Homo sapiens: one gene and its partners. The protein of the gene in region 3 purifies or fractionates together with the protein of the main gene of each other region. This does not show direct contact. Each region holds a gene or a part of one and is shown on either strand. Other genes may lie near its edges.

The links. Proteins that work in one complex are often made in the same cells at the same time.
Region 1: the proteins of CD44 (region 3) and FGF2 purify together in Homo sapiens (co-immunoprecipitation; 3 studies listed by BioGRID and IntAct, with this or other methods). This does not show direct contact.
Region 2: the proteins of CD44 (region 3) and HADHA purify together in Homo sapiens (co-immunoprecipitation; 3 studies listed by BioGRID and IntAct, with this or other methods). This does not show direct contact.
Region 4: the proteins of CD44 (region 3) and AMPD2 purify together in Homo sapiens (co-immunoprecipitation; 3 studies listed by BioGRID and IntAct, with this or other methods). This does not show direct contact.

The regions. Positions count from the first base shown.
Region 1 is NC_000004.12:122,825,676-122,829,830, reverse strand, and holds the start of FGF2 (fibroblast growth factor 2 isoform 18 kDa), read right to left. Parts: upstream 2,657-4,155; coding exon 2,479-2,656; intron 1-2,478. UniProt on the Homo sapiens protein: Acts as a ligand for FGFR1, FGFR2, FGFR3 and FGFR4. Also acts as an integrin ligand which is required for FGF2 signaling. Binds to integrin ITGAV:ITGB3.
Region 2 is NC_000002.12:26,227,633-26,231,132, reverse strand, and holds part of HADHA (trifunctional enzyme subunit alpha, mitochondrial precursor), read left to right. Parts: intron 1-838; coding exon 839-941; intron 942-3,500. UniProt on the Homo sapiens protein: Mitochondrial trifunctional enzyme catalyzes the last three of the four reactions of the mitochondrial beta-oxidation pathway.
Region 3 is NC_000011.10:35,205,171-35,208,670, reverse strand, and holds part of CD44 (CD44 antigen isoform 1 precursor), read right to left. Parts: intron 2,887-3,500; coding exon of another isoform or gene 2,831-2,886; exon of another isoform or gene 2,624-2,830; intron 2,560-2,623; coding exon 2,428-2,559; intron 567-2,427; coding exon 465-566; intron 1-464. UniProt on the Homo sapiens protein: Cell-surface receptor that plays a role in cell-cell interactions, cell adhesion and migration, helping them to sense and respond to changes in the tissue microenvironment.
Region 4 is NC_000001.11:109,629,837-109,632,551, forward strand, and holds the end of AMPD2 (AMP deaminase 2), read left to right. Parts: coding exon 1-80; intron 81-396; coding exon 397-570; intron 571-846; coding exon 847-957; intron 958-1,106; coding exon 1,107-1,316; 3' UTR 1,317-2,215; downstream 2,216-2,715. UniProt on the Homo sapiens protein: AMP deaminase plays a critical role in energy metabolism. Catalyzes the deamination of AMP to IMP and plays an important role in the purine nucleotide cycle.

The DNA of each region.
Region 1 (4,155 bases), on a different chromosome or scaffold from region 3:
TTGGGCTACATAGAAATAGATGAAATTTGTCATTTTTAGATTTGTATTCTTGTCAGTCTATTGCCTGGTACAGGTATCCTTTAAAAAAAGAGTAGTCTCTTTGGGGACTTGGGAAGAAAGGGTGGGAAGTTGGGGAGGGACAGGACTACAAACTGGATTCAGTGTATACTGCTTGGGTGATGGGTGCAACAAAATTTCACAAATCACCACTAAAGAACTTACTCATGTAACCAACTACCACCTGGTCCCTAAAACCCTATAGAAATAAAAAATTTTAAAAAAATTGGTAGTCTCCACAAGTCTGGATGAGTTATTCTACATTTCCCTTTTAATGTCTTGTCCTTAGCTAGTTATAAAGTTAGCAGAGTTCTCAACCTGAGTACTAGTGACATTTGGGGTCAAAAATGTTTTTGTTGAGGGTATTATAATGTGTATTGTAGGATGTTCAGCAGCATCCCCGGCCTCTACCTGCCAGATGCCAGTAGCACCCTTCCAGGTTACAGCAACCAAAAATGTCTCCAGGCATTGTCAAATGTCCCCTGGGAGGCAAAATCGTCCCCATTTGAGAACCACAGAGTTAAAGTAAGATTACAAAAATGAAAACCCAACTCACAGTTAGGAAGAAAAAGTTAACGGTTGTTTTTACAACGGTGGTAATGTGGTATGCAATTCAAAATTATGTCCACTGGCTAACCTCTACATAGTTTTATTCTAAGGCGAATCGGGTATCAAAATCTTCAAAGAAAAAATGATTCAGCAACTAATAGAGTCTGAAAAAAAAAGAGTATTAGGGGAAGCCCCAAATATTAATTTAATTTAAAGGGAAATTCTTCTGTCTTCTGGTCATAATACATGCTTTTTAATAAATAATTTGTGATACTAGAAAGAACAAAACCAATTGGGACACACAGCACCTTGCCCTTGTCAGCTGAGATGGCGTAGCAGACAACTGCAGAACAAACTTCAATCACAAAGATAATTTTTTGAAATAGATGAGTTCAAGTTACCAGAATAGAGAACTAGCACTAACCCATCTAATAGGTTACAAGCATCTTTTCAGTTTTACGGGATTAAGTGATTGATAAAATTTTTAAATTATGGCAAGCCTGAAAAAAATTAAATACTTGCCTCTCTTGCAGGTTGCTATTTTGGAAGCAATAAAGACTCAGCTCATATGAAAGTGTATTGCCCATTCTTCTGCCAATTCACGTTTGGTTGTAGAATTTTCTTCTCTTCCAGCCCCCCTCCACCTCCCCTCATGACATCCCATTAGCATCCCAAGACAAAGGCAGAACTACAGGGGAGTGGCGCTGGGACCCCTGTGGGTCTTTTCTCAGGCAATGAGAGAATCAGATTCTCCACCTGGAACCCATAAAGGAAGGAACGCCATAACACACAGCTTTTAAAACACATGTTTACATACACTTACAGGAGGACAGGTTACAATATATTCTAGTCCTCTTTCTCTCACTTCAAATTCCATCAGTGTTGTAAATCGGCTCATCTTATGCCCCTTTCTTTCTCTTTCCTCTAGACCAGTGGCTCTCAAAGTGTGATGTGATCAGCATCCCCGGGGAACATGTTAGAAATGCAAATCTTCAGCCCCCACTCCAGACTTAGGGAATCCCCTAAAGTCCAAGCACTCCTTATTTAGGCCAGTGTTCTTTCTAGAACCACAAACATTGTTTCTTACAGAAAGCAAAACTGCAATTCTCATTTCATCCTCAAGCCTGCTGCAAGGTAGTAATATATTAGCCCCACGTGAGCGATGAGGAAACCGGCTCTGGGGTTAAGCGTCGGCTCAAGGTCTCAAAGCTAGTCACTGCAGGTGGAAGATTAAAGTGTTTGCACTTCTTTTCACTACTGAAACAAAGCTATGGCACTTTATTAACAACATCTGGATTTTTTGCTGGTTGGCTGGTTGGTTTTTGTTTTTGCTCTTTCAGCTTTCGTCAATTCGGAAAAATATAAAACAGAGTGGGTGAGAGTAGTGTGCCATATGCCTCGGGTCGTCCCGAGTCGGAATTTAAGGGCAGGACTCTAGAAAGGTGTTTTTCCAGTAAAGACCGTTTCGTTCTGCTGCGGTCCTTCCTGTCTTTGTCCCCGGGACAGCACGCAGCAGATAGAAGCGGCCAGAGCTGCATGGCGGGGCCGCGGGCATCCCCGACGCGACAGGTTGTCCGCGGGAAGACAGCCAGTCCGCGAGGCCCCGGCGCGCCGCGGCTCCGGGCCGGGGGTACTGGTTTACAGGGCAAATTGGCACACCCCAAAGCCCAGGGGACACCCGGGCCTACGCCGCAGCCCGGAAAGGAGGGGGTGAGTGGTGAACCCGAAACCGCCGAGGGCCGCGCGGCCAGAAACCACACGGAGCGCTAGGGTCGCAGTGAAGATCCGGGAGGAGGGTGCAGGCTGGAGGGGAGAGAGCGGGCGAGAACCCACGAAATGGAAATGAGGCGGAGAGAGCGGGTCGGCACTCACTGTGAGGGTCGCTCTTCTCCCGGACCCCGTCAACTCGGCCGTCGGGGTGGATGCGCAGGAAGAAGCCCCCGTTTTTGCAGTACAGCCGCTTGGGGTCCTTGAAGTGGCCGGGCGGGAAGGCGCCGCTGCCGCCATCCTCGGGCAAGGCGGGCAGCGTGGTGATGCTCCCGGCTGCCATGGTCCCTGCGGGGCCCGGCCGGGATCCCCGAGCCGCTGGAGCCGCGCGGGGAGCCGCCGTCCCCCGGCCCCGGCCCCGGCCTCCGACCCGCTCCGGGGCACGGCCCCGGCCCCGGCCCCCCAGCCTCCCGCCCGGCAGCGCGCGGCCGCGCCCGCGGTCCCCCAGCCTCGAGCCGCTCGGCCGCTCTTCTGTCCGCCGGCCCCTGGTGCGCGGCGAGCCGGCGGCCCGGGACCTGGGGTTCACGGATGGGTGTCTCCGCGGACGCCGCCTGGGGAGAGCCGCCTCCCAAGCTGCAGCGCCCGGGATCCCGTTGCAACCGCGGGCACCGCGTCCGCTAATCTGGCACCCGCCGGGCCGCGGCGTCACATCTTCTACATCTCCACCCCCCACACCCACCAGCCTCCCGCGCCCCCAGTTCTCCTCCCTCCTGCGCGCCGCCCCCTACTCGCTCGGGTTTTCTGGGGCCGGCCTCTGAGTTCGGCGGTTCGGCCACAACACGCAAGCGCGCGACATCAGTCCGGCGGGGAGCCCGGCCTCAGTCGGGGGCGGGGGAGAGGCGAGGGGCGGGGGGCGCGCGTCGGAGGCCGCGGCAGGGCTTTGGCATTCCCTGGGCTCCACCGCCCCTTATCCCCCAAAAGTCACCCCCGCCCAACCCCCGCACCACCCAAACCACGTTTAGGCTTTCTCCACACTGCGGGGCTTTTGCTGCGCAACCAGCCGTGACTCAACTTTTAAAAGTTTAAACTCAACTTTCTCCCCCATTTTTTCCCCGCTAGCGTTTCAAAACGGAGAAGCCGTTTCCACCCCAAAGTAGAGAAGTTGCAATCCAAGGAAGAGTCTGTGTCAGAGCAGGCTTTGAAAATCTCTAAATCACCAAAAGACGAGGGGTACAAGTGGGGCATAAACTTTAAAATTAAAGGACAGAGGCTGAAGTCGTCTACCAACAAAAGGAGAGAAAGAGGCCAGAGAAGGGGAGCAGATTGGGTTGCTAAAACGAAAAGGTTTCCTTTACTGACCTATCTTGAATTAGACGACGCAGAAAGATGAGGATGGGGATAAGGATAAATCCTTATCGCGATCGAAGCGCATTAATGTCTTAACTCGGACCTGGCATTTGCCCTAGCTAAATTGTTATGCATTTCTTGGAGAGAGAGTTATTTTCTGTAAATCCCAAATGTAAAATTGAAGTTAATTGCATTTTGGTAATTTTCAGTAGGATATAGCAGGTGCCACAGATGACTAGGAAAATATCTATTCAGAAAACTTGCATGTATTGAGTACCTACTGTGTGCAACACATAATGTTGAGTGTGTGGGAGATGCCAAATCTGATGCCAGCGTCTCACACACTGAGGGAGATAAGATGGGTAGCATGAGTAACACAAATAGCAGTAGAAAGTAGGCCATAGAAGAGTAAGACTAAGTGCTGTGACATTTCAGACATCGGATAACTCAGCGTGGGGAGGCAGGAGATTTGGGGAAGCTTCTAGAAGGAGTTGC
Region 2 (3,500 bases), on a different chromosome or scaffold from region 3:
TGAGTTTCTTTCTTTCTTCTTTTTTTTTTCTTAAACTATAGCTGGTATTTGAATGTTGCTAGAAGCCTTTCTTCTAGTATGCCATATAAGCAGCCCTAGCTGAGTTCTATTTTTGTTAAGCTTAAAATTCTTTTTAAAGACTTTGTCAAAACTATCAGGTTTCTCACAGTCTTCTCTAGTTTCAATATGAGAATTTTATTTTATTTTATTTTTGGGACAGAGTCACTTTTGTTGTTCAGGCTGGAGTACAGTGGCATGATCTCGGCTCACTGCAACCTCTGCCTCCGGATTCAAGCAATTCTTGTGCCTCAGCCTCCCAAGTAGCTGGAATGACAGGTGTGCCCCACCATGCCCAGCTAATTTTTTGTATTTTTAGTAAAGACAGGGTTTCACCATGTCGGGCCAGGCTGGTCTCAAACTCCTAACCTCAGGTGACCCGCCTGCCTTGGCCTCCCAAAGTGCTGGAATTACAGGTGTGAGCCACCGTGCCTGGCCAGAATTTTACATATTATATATATGATAGAAAAAAACCCCTCAGAATAACAGAAATGTACAATTTTAGGAAACATGAAATTCTTTACCTTATTAGTATAAGAATCCTATATATTGAATTAAGAGATAAAGACATTTTTGCTTCAGCTAGAGGTATCTAATCCCCAAAGTTACCCAAGTGTATATCAGTATATTAAATATAACTTATCTATGCTGTTGACAAATAGCATAAACATATGGCTTGACTTTTCTCATTTTAATATTTGTTCATTTGATGATTTGTAAACTATATAATTATCACCCTGATTTTTTTCCCCCTATATTCTCATCCTTGCTTGCCTGTTAGGTGGGTGTGCCTGCTGCTTTGGACATGATGCTGACTGGTAGAAGCATTCGTGCAGACAGGGCAAAGAAAATGGGACTGGTTGACCAACTGGTGGAACCCCTGGGTAAGTGTTAGCACATCTCAGAGTCAGACCTTATAAAGTTACTTATTTTCTTAAAGAGTTAACCTCTTAGGCCAGGCACGGTGGCTCACACCTGTAATCCCAGCACTTTGGGAGGCTGAGGCGGGAAGATCACTTGAGGTCAGGAGTTTGAGACCAGCCTTGCCAACATGGCGAAACCCTGTCTCCACTAAAAATGATTAGCCGGGTGTGGTGGTGCAAACCTGTAGTTCCAGCTACTTGGGAGGCTGAGGCAGGAGGATCGCTTGAACCTGGCGGGGCTGAGGTTGCAGTGAGCCAAGATCATGCCATTGTGCTCCAGCCTGGGCAACAGAGCCAGACTCCCATCTCAAAAGAAAAAACAGTTAACCTCTTGAATATCACAGGAAGCACAGAGAGAAGCTCAAACTCTTAAGAAATGAGTCATTATTCTAAGGAAGGAAGTTTTATAAAATAGCTAATACTAAATCATTTTCAACATCACCCTGATTTTTATTTTGCTTTATAATTAGAACATTAGGAGTACAGAATTCAGTCAAGTCATTATTTTTGGTTCTTAAATTACCTGTATCATTATCCATGCATAACCTTCCTTCAGTTTCTTGTGTCTGTTTTAGTAATATAATAAATGAAACAACCAACCTGAGAATATTAACAATAATTGATATCTACTGATGGGCTACTTCCTCCCATTCAGTTTCTTTGCCTCCCTTTATCCAAAGAAGCCACTATTCTGACTTGTGTGTTCATTACCCTCTTATATTTATTGAAAATCAGCATTATTGAGATATTACTTACATAATAGTAAATGTATTAATTTTGTGTGTGTGTGTGTGTGTGTGTGTGCGCGCGCACACATGTTGGGGTCTCACTCTGTTGCTCAGACTGGAATATGGTGGTGTGAATATAGCTTGTTGCAACCTCAACTTTTTGGGCTCAAATGATCTTCCCACTTGTGCCCCCCGAGTAGCTGAGACCACAGGCATACGCTGCTACACCAGCTAATTTTTTATTTTTTGTAGAAACGAGATCTCACTCTGTTTTCCAGGCTAGTCTCAAACTCCGGGCTCAAGTAATCCTCCTCCCTCAGCCACCCAAAGTGCCGAGATTTACAGGTGTGAGCCACTGTGTCTGGTGAAATTGACCAACTTTTAATGTATAATTTGAGTTTTGAAAATGTATATAGCTGTGTAAACACTGCCACAATCCAAAAATAGCCGTGCATGGTGGCTCACACCTGTAATCATAGCATTTTGGGAGGCTGAGGTGGGAGAATTGCTTGAGGCCTGGAATTCAAGACCAGCCTGGACAACAGAGCAAGATCCTATCTCTTAAAAAAGAATTTTTTTTTTTCAATTAGCTGGGTATCATAGTGTATACCTGTAGTCCCAGCTAGTCAGGAGGCTGAGACAGGAATATTGTTTGAGCCCAGAAGTTCAAGGCTGTAGTGAGCTATGATCACACCACTGCACTCCAGCCTGAGCAACAGAGTGAGATGCCATCTTTTAAACAAAAATTTTTAAACATTTCTGGTATGTAGTTTGTTTTAATCTTCGTTCACTTAGCATAATGCTTTTGAGATGCATCCATACTGTTGCATATATCAGCAGTTTGTCCTTATTGCTGAGTGTTACTCCATTGTAGAAATGTACCATAGTTTGTTTATCCGTTCACCAAATGATGAGCATTTGAGTTGTTTCTAATTTAGGGCTATTCTGAATAAAGCTGCTATGAACATTCATCTTTAAGTCTTTATGTGGGCGTGACTGGGCGTGGTGGCTCAAGCCTCTAATCCCAGCACTTTGGGAGGCTGAGGCAGGCTGATCACCTGAGGTCAGGAATTCAACACCAGCCTGACCAACATGGCGAAACCCCATCTCTACTAAAAATACAAAAATTAGCTGGGTGTAGTGGTGTGCACCTGTGGTCCCAGCTACTTGGGAGGCTAAGGTAGGAGAATCACTTGAACCCAGGAGGTGGAGGTTGCCGTGAGCCAAGATTGTGCCACTGCACTCCAGCCTGGGTGACAGAGCGAGACTCTGTCTCAAAAAAAAAAAAAGTCTTTATGTGGACAAATGTTTCATTTCTGTTGGGTAAGTACTGAAGAGTGGATTGGCTAGTCCATATAACAGATATATATTAGCTTTTGAAAAAAAAAGTTTGGCCTGAGCAACATAGCAAGACTCTGTCTCAACAAAATAAAAAGTTTTAACTAGTTGGGTGTGGTGGCACATGCCTGTAGTCCTGGCTACTAGGGAGGCTGAGGCAGGAGGATTGCTTGAACCCAGGAGTTTGAAGTCACATGGAGCTATGATCAGGCCACTGCACTCCAGCCTGGGTGAGAGAGGGAGACCTTATCTCTGGGAAGAAAAAAAAAAAATTTAGAGATGAGACTTTGAGTCTTGCTCTGTCACCCAGGCTGGCCTCAGACTCCTGGGCTCAAGCAGTCTTCCTGCCTCAGCCTCCCAAGAAGCCGGGATTACGAGGCATATGCCACTAGTATTTGCTAGGTATGTGTTTGCTTTTCTGTCAGACTGTTTTCCCAAAGTGGTTATACTCTTT
Region 3 (3,500 bases):
CCTTGCCTCTCCTCTGAGAACTGATGTGATCTCTAGGATTATCTGGCCCCAAAAATGTCTTTTTACAACCATGCAAGCAATCCTACCCCTCTTCTGCACTGGCTGGAGGAAAGATGGACATTGAAAGGAAATGGTCAGTTAAAACATAGAGAAATCACTATCCTGGAAGTGGGCATGTGTTTCACTGACATAACTACTTAGAGAATGAAAATGGAGTTGAATAGAGTCCTACTTTTTCTTAAAACACAAAGTCATTAAATCTGGAAGGCACAAAGAAATGAAGGGAAAATCAGGTTGAGAGACCTCCACAAGAAATACAGACAATGAAGACAGTTTCACACTCTGGGCTGAAGTAAGCCACATAGCACCATTCCACCACCAAAGCTCTGCATCTTGGCCAATAGCGAGTAAGAGATGAAGCAGGAATACAAGTCAATAAAGTGGCTGAGCATCGTTATTCTTACGCGTTGTCATTGAAAGAGGTCCTGTCCTGTCCAAATCTTCCACCAAACCTGTGTTTGGATTTGCAGTAGGCTGAAGCGTTATACTATGACTGGAGTCCATATCTGAAGGAATCAATATTAGTGTTATTGCTTGATTTCCCAAACCACTACCTGAAGGTGGCTTATGGTCTACAGCTGATTTTTTTAAATATTCACATCTGGCCAAGAGGAAAGAAAGCACATACTGACTATATCTCCCGAACTGAGATAGATTATTGTTTCATCAAAGAGCACCACAACAAGTAACTGGCTTTCCTTGAAGGGCCGAGTTATATGAAAGCTATGCTGTGTGTTTGTTTTTGCTGAGTCTGGAAGGACTCCACATGAGTGCATGATGGAACACCCAAATCTTGCAGAGAGACAGAAACATTGCCTTTTTTATAGAAACATGCAATCTGACACATGGAGAAAAGACAAAGTGTGCTGGCTCAGGCACCATTTTATCCCCTCCCCCTTACCAACCAAAGGGACTTTTAAAAATAGCCCTCTTCCCCCCTTTAGTCTTTTTTTCTTCACAAAGTGAATATGCAAATAAACAGAATCGTCATCCAAGACCACCTAGGTGGAGTTACAGAAAGTATACAGGGGCAAGAAATAAGAAGCAGTGGACGTCATTGAATTATTCTTCCCAAAAACCCAAGTATAAGCGGTCTTTAAAATTTAACATGTACAATGTTGAGTAGTGCAGAAATTTCACTGAAATACTTGTAAATGTTGTTTTTAACAGTTATCACAGATCTACTCTGCTGAAATAAGAAGTCTTGAGTGAAACAGAGGCCAAACAATTCATAAACCCCATCGATATTTCTGGCTGTCAATTCAGTCAAAGTCTATCCACATCACTGCCTCTGGGGGAGATTTAATCAGTCCCAGTGAAGCACCAGAATACTGGGTACCCAGGTCTGCACTGCAGCCTTTCAACACTAAATATTCAAGATTCAACACTAAATATTCAACACTAAAATATTAAAGATCTTTGTAGGACAAAAATGTGGTGACCCTGTTATCCCAGATTTCAAACAAGAGCAAGTGCTAACCTGAATCAAAACCACAAATGGACATTCTCCCAGAAAAAGTCCCACTTGATGATGGGCTCTAGACTCTTGTTCATCTTCCCTCTTATAAGTAGAGTCCTTCAAGAGTCATCATACCATTGTGTAGTTGAAGCCAATTGTATTGTCCTTGACATGTTCATTAATTTAATGGAATCTCTTTCTCTTCATCAGTACATAGAATTAATATTGATTCTGAAGATCTTTGCCTGGCTTGGTTTTCCCCCATGGGTGTCCTCAGAGCTCCAGCTGCCATGTGCAAACTCATGTGTGCTGGGTCTGCCTGTGGTACTTCAGTCACTCAACATAATGGCCCCTGCCTAGCCATTCAAACACATCTTCCCTTGTGAAAAATGGATCCACTCACTGACATATTCATTCCTTGGCTTTTCTTCCTTCACGTTTCTCCTTACAGGAGTCTCCTTCTTAGGAAAACTGCCCCCCCCACCAACCCCCACCACCCACTTCCTTTCTCTGACTATCCAGGGTTTTTTTATTTTTCATAAACCAAGTCCAATTCACCTTTCTGTGATGCTGTGGTGGGCAGGGAGGGGTTCTCAGAATTTCTTTAGCGTTTATTGTTGGCAACATTCATTTCATATCTATTACTTACTGCCTCACACAGATATATTTTGACAATAAGTTTTTTCTTTTGCCAACCCTCCTGCTAAATTCCTTACTTTCAGCTCAGAACTTCATATTCAGGTGAATATGAGTATCACTCCTACCAAGAAAACTAATTTTTGAAGAACCTCAGGTCCTTCAGGAAAGTAGTTTGGTCTAAAACCAAGGGCATATTTCTAGAAAAATAGTCAGCAGTCACTCAGTGGATTTCAAAAAACATAATATATAAAAATCTCAGAGGCTATTACCCATCCTTCTTCCTGCTTGATGACCTCGTCCCATGGGGTGTGAGATTGGGTTGAAGAAATCAGTCCAGGAACTGTCCTCTGGGCTTGGTGTTGTCCTTCCTTGCATTGGATGGCTGGTATGAGCTGAGGCTGCTGTGACCATGCAGTTTGAGCAATTGTCAAAGTGTTAATGGACGCTTGGTCAGGGATACACCGATTTTATTTTTAAAAAAGACTTTATTCTCTAGACAAGACAATGAAACCATCTTCCTTGTATAGAGGGCAAGGAAGTTGCATAAACGCAGAATGTTTCAGCAGCTTTGGGTTCACTCATGCTCATTTTCTTCTTAGCAATCAGCATGTGAACTGGAGGACACAAAAGCATTAACAACTCCCGCAGTGCAGAAAGGATGAGTTACCGACATCAAAGGAAGATGAAGGAGAAGTACTTCTTGACCCATGCCATGCTGCCACAGTCCCCTAAAGGCAGAAGTATAAAAGCCCGAGTGCATGATGTTATTCTGAGACAACCATATTCCAGCCAAATGCACATTAGGCTGGAAGTGATCTCAGGAAAGGAATCAGGTAACAGCTTTCCATGTGATCAATATGAAAGTCAATGCCATTTATCTCAAAAGCATGAATGGAATCCGTTAGAAGCATTACCTTCTAACAATGGGATTTATGGCATAAATGACATATAAGAAAGCAGCACATGCCTTGCTTCATTCTGAGCCAATGAAGAAGTATAGGTAGAAAAGATTACAATAGCATCCTCTTAGCAACAACTACACCACATAGACAATCACAGAATCCATTGCTCTGCCAGGAATTCATTTAGAACTTGCCATGCCCCAGAAGGACATGATGCATTATCTTCTATGTTGCAAATAGAAATATGGGAATATTTCTCACTGATACCAAGTGAGAATATGGAATTCACATTCTTTATAAGGCAGGACACATTTTAATACTTATGTCACACAGACAAAAGAATCCTGCATGGGAGCTTGCAAAGCCAAGTTATCTGGTATCACTTAGAGATGATGATAAGACTGGATTCCAATTTCCACAATCTCACAATTCAAGAATAG
Region 4 (2,715 bases), on a different chromosome or scaffold from region 3:
GGGAGGCTGGGCCCATCCACCACCTGGTGTCAGCCTTCATGCTGGCTGAGAACATTTCCCACGGGCTCCTTCTGCGCAAGGTCAGGATCTGCACCCCTAGCCTTCCCTCCCAATTGTTCACCTTCCTCTGAACCATTCGGGCCCCTTCAGCAACCGATCCTCCTCCCACCCAGCCCTCAGATTGGATTCTGCCTTCCCAATGTAACTACCCTTCCCCACCCCAGCCTTCAGCCTGGGGCCCCAACTTGGATTTTGACTAATTCACCCTTTGCACATCAGGCCAAGCCTGGATTCCCCTCCCCCTGCCCTCTGCTGTGGCCTGGACCCCCAGAACCACTGTGCCCTGCCCAGCCTCGGGGCCACCTGACAGGCCCTCCCTCCCTGTTGCCTGCCCAGGCCCCCGTCCTGCAGTACCTGTACTACCTGGCCCAGATCGGCATCGCCATGTCTCCGCTCAGCAACAACAGCCTCTTCCTCAGCTATCACCGGAATCCGCTACCGGAGTACCTGTCCCGCGGCCTCATGGTCTCCCTGTCCACTGATGATCCCTTGCAGTTCCACTTCACCAAGGTCAGAGCCCAGCAGGCAGCCAGGCGGGCGGGCGTCCCAGGACGCTGGGGTCTCCCGGGTTGGGTGGGGGGCGGTGGGGGGGGCGGTCTCTCGGGTTGGTGCTGCCCCCTGCTGGTAGAGCATAGCTGGCCAATTGACAAGTCTTATGGAGTTGAGGGGTTGGGGGGTTGGGGGGATGGGGGGGCGGGGGTGGGGAGAGTGAGTGAGGAGGCTGGGGAAGGGAGGCAGGGGCAGCTGGCCAGGGCGCACTCGTCTGAGGGAACCTGGCCCGTGCAGGAGCCGCTGATGGAGGAGTACAGCATCGCCACCCAGGTGTGGAAGCTCAGCTCCTGCGATATGTGTGAGCTGGCCCGCAACAGCGTGCTCATGAGCGGCTTCTCGCACAAGGTACTACAGCGCCTGCCTGGACCTTGGCATGGCATCACTCCTCCCCTCCTCTGCATTTGGGGTCCTGACCTGTCCCTGGGATGGCTTGGGGTGGGGCATGACCCCTCAGCACTGGCTGCAGCCCTGCCCATTACCCCCGCTCCTTGCAGGTAAAGAGCCACTGGCTGGGACCCAACTATACCAAGGAAGGCCCTGAGGGGAATGACATCCGCCGGACCAATGTGCCAGACATCCGCGTGGGCTACCGCTACGAGACCCTGTGCCAGGAGCTGGCGCTCATCACGCAGGCAGTCCAGAGTGAGATGCTGGAGACCATTCCAGAGGAGGCGGGTATCACCATGAGCCCAGGGCCTCAATGAGCCTGGTCCATGAAGTGCCCACCACATCGCAGCACTTTTACCACGTTTTGTCCTCAGACCCCGCCCATGCTGTGTGGTCTCTGCATGTCTCCATTCTTCTCTGTCTCTGTCTTGCATGTCTCCTACCATGTCACTGTCCCTGGGCCACCCAGTGAAAGCAAAGCCTGGGAATCTGCTCATTGTTGTTTGGGCTCAGGTATTGAGCCTGATGGCCCAGGTATTGAGGGCCTCCCCTGCTGGTGGCCCTGTCCTGGGATCCTCAGAAGCCTGACTGTCCTATGGGCTTCTCCAGTGTCCACAGGGGCTTGGGATGGTTGTGGGGGGCTGGCCCCTCTAGCCTTTCCGGTCCTTCCTGGGCAAATCTAAGCCTTGGCCAGGGCCGAAGTTTAGGCCCCTGTCTTGTTCATGTAGCCGAGGGGCAGGCGGGGGACCTCTACACCTCTGCTGTGGGCACGGGGCTGCTGAGGGTCTGTGGAACTCCAGCAGCTCTGCACTGGGTAGAGCTGGGCCTAGAGCTCAGTCACAGGCCTGGGCTTCCTGGCCTGAGTGGGTAGACGCAGGCGGCAGAGGTGCTGGACCACATCTCCGCCAAGTCACTGCCCAGCAGCCTTCTCCGTCCTGTCCCCAGCCCACGTGCTCCTTGGGTGTCAGCTTCCTGTGCCTCTGTGGGAGAGGGCAGCTGCCTTGTGTTATGTCTGGGGCCACAGTTGCTGCAAAGTCCTGGATCTGCCACTCAACCCCGGGAGTGGTGTTCCCAGTGTGGCTCCCAGAGCTTTGACCAGATTGTGATCCCAGCTGGCCCCTATGTTGTGTTCTGGACTGAGGCCTTTGCTGTGAACTGCAGTGTTTCATACGAACCATCTTTCCTAGTGCATGAGAAATAAAGATTATTTAAGTAATGAGGCAGGTGGGGTTTCTGTTGGGAGAGGGAACGCCGTGGTGGGAGGTGGCTGTGGATGGAGGCACCGTGCATTCTGAGGGGAGGGACTAGGCTTGGGTGATGTGTATGTTGTGCATGTGGAAACTGACAAAAGAAGCTGTGGGAGAGAGGAGATGCCCATCCAACCCTCATCCAGCCTGTTCCCTGTGAGGGGAACACCTAGCCCCGGGTCTGTGACACATCCCTGTCACACCAGCTTGGGGGCTGGTGTCTGTTTCCCACCTTGTACTTCCTCCCCTCTTCCAGCCTCTGAGGGGATGGCCTGGTAGATGGGAAATATGCACCTACAGACAAACCTGAGACCAGGGTCTTCTGGGGGGGTCTTGTTTAGATGGCCCTCTCCAGGCCATACTCTCAGAGATTCTGATTCAATAGGCAGAAGGTGTGGCACAGACATCTGCAAACTCTCGGGCAGATTCTATTGCAAGAGGTTGGAACAAGCCTGTGCATTCCGATTCC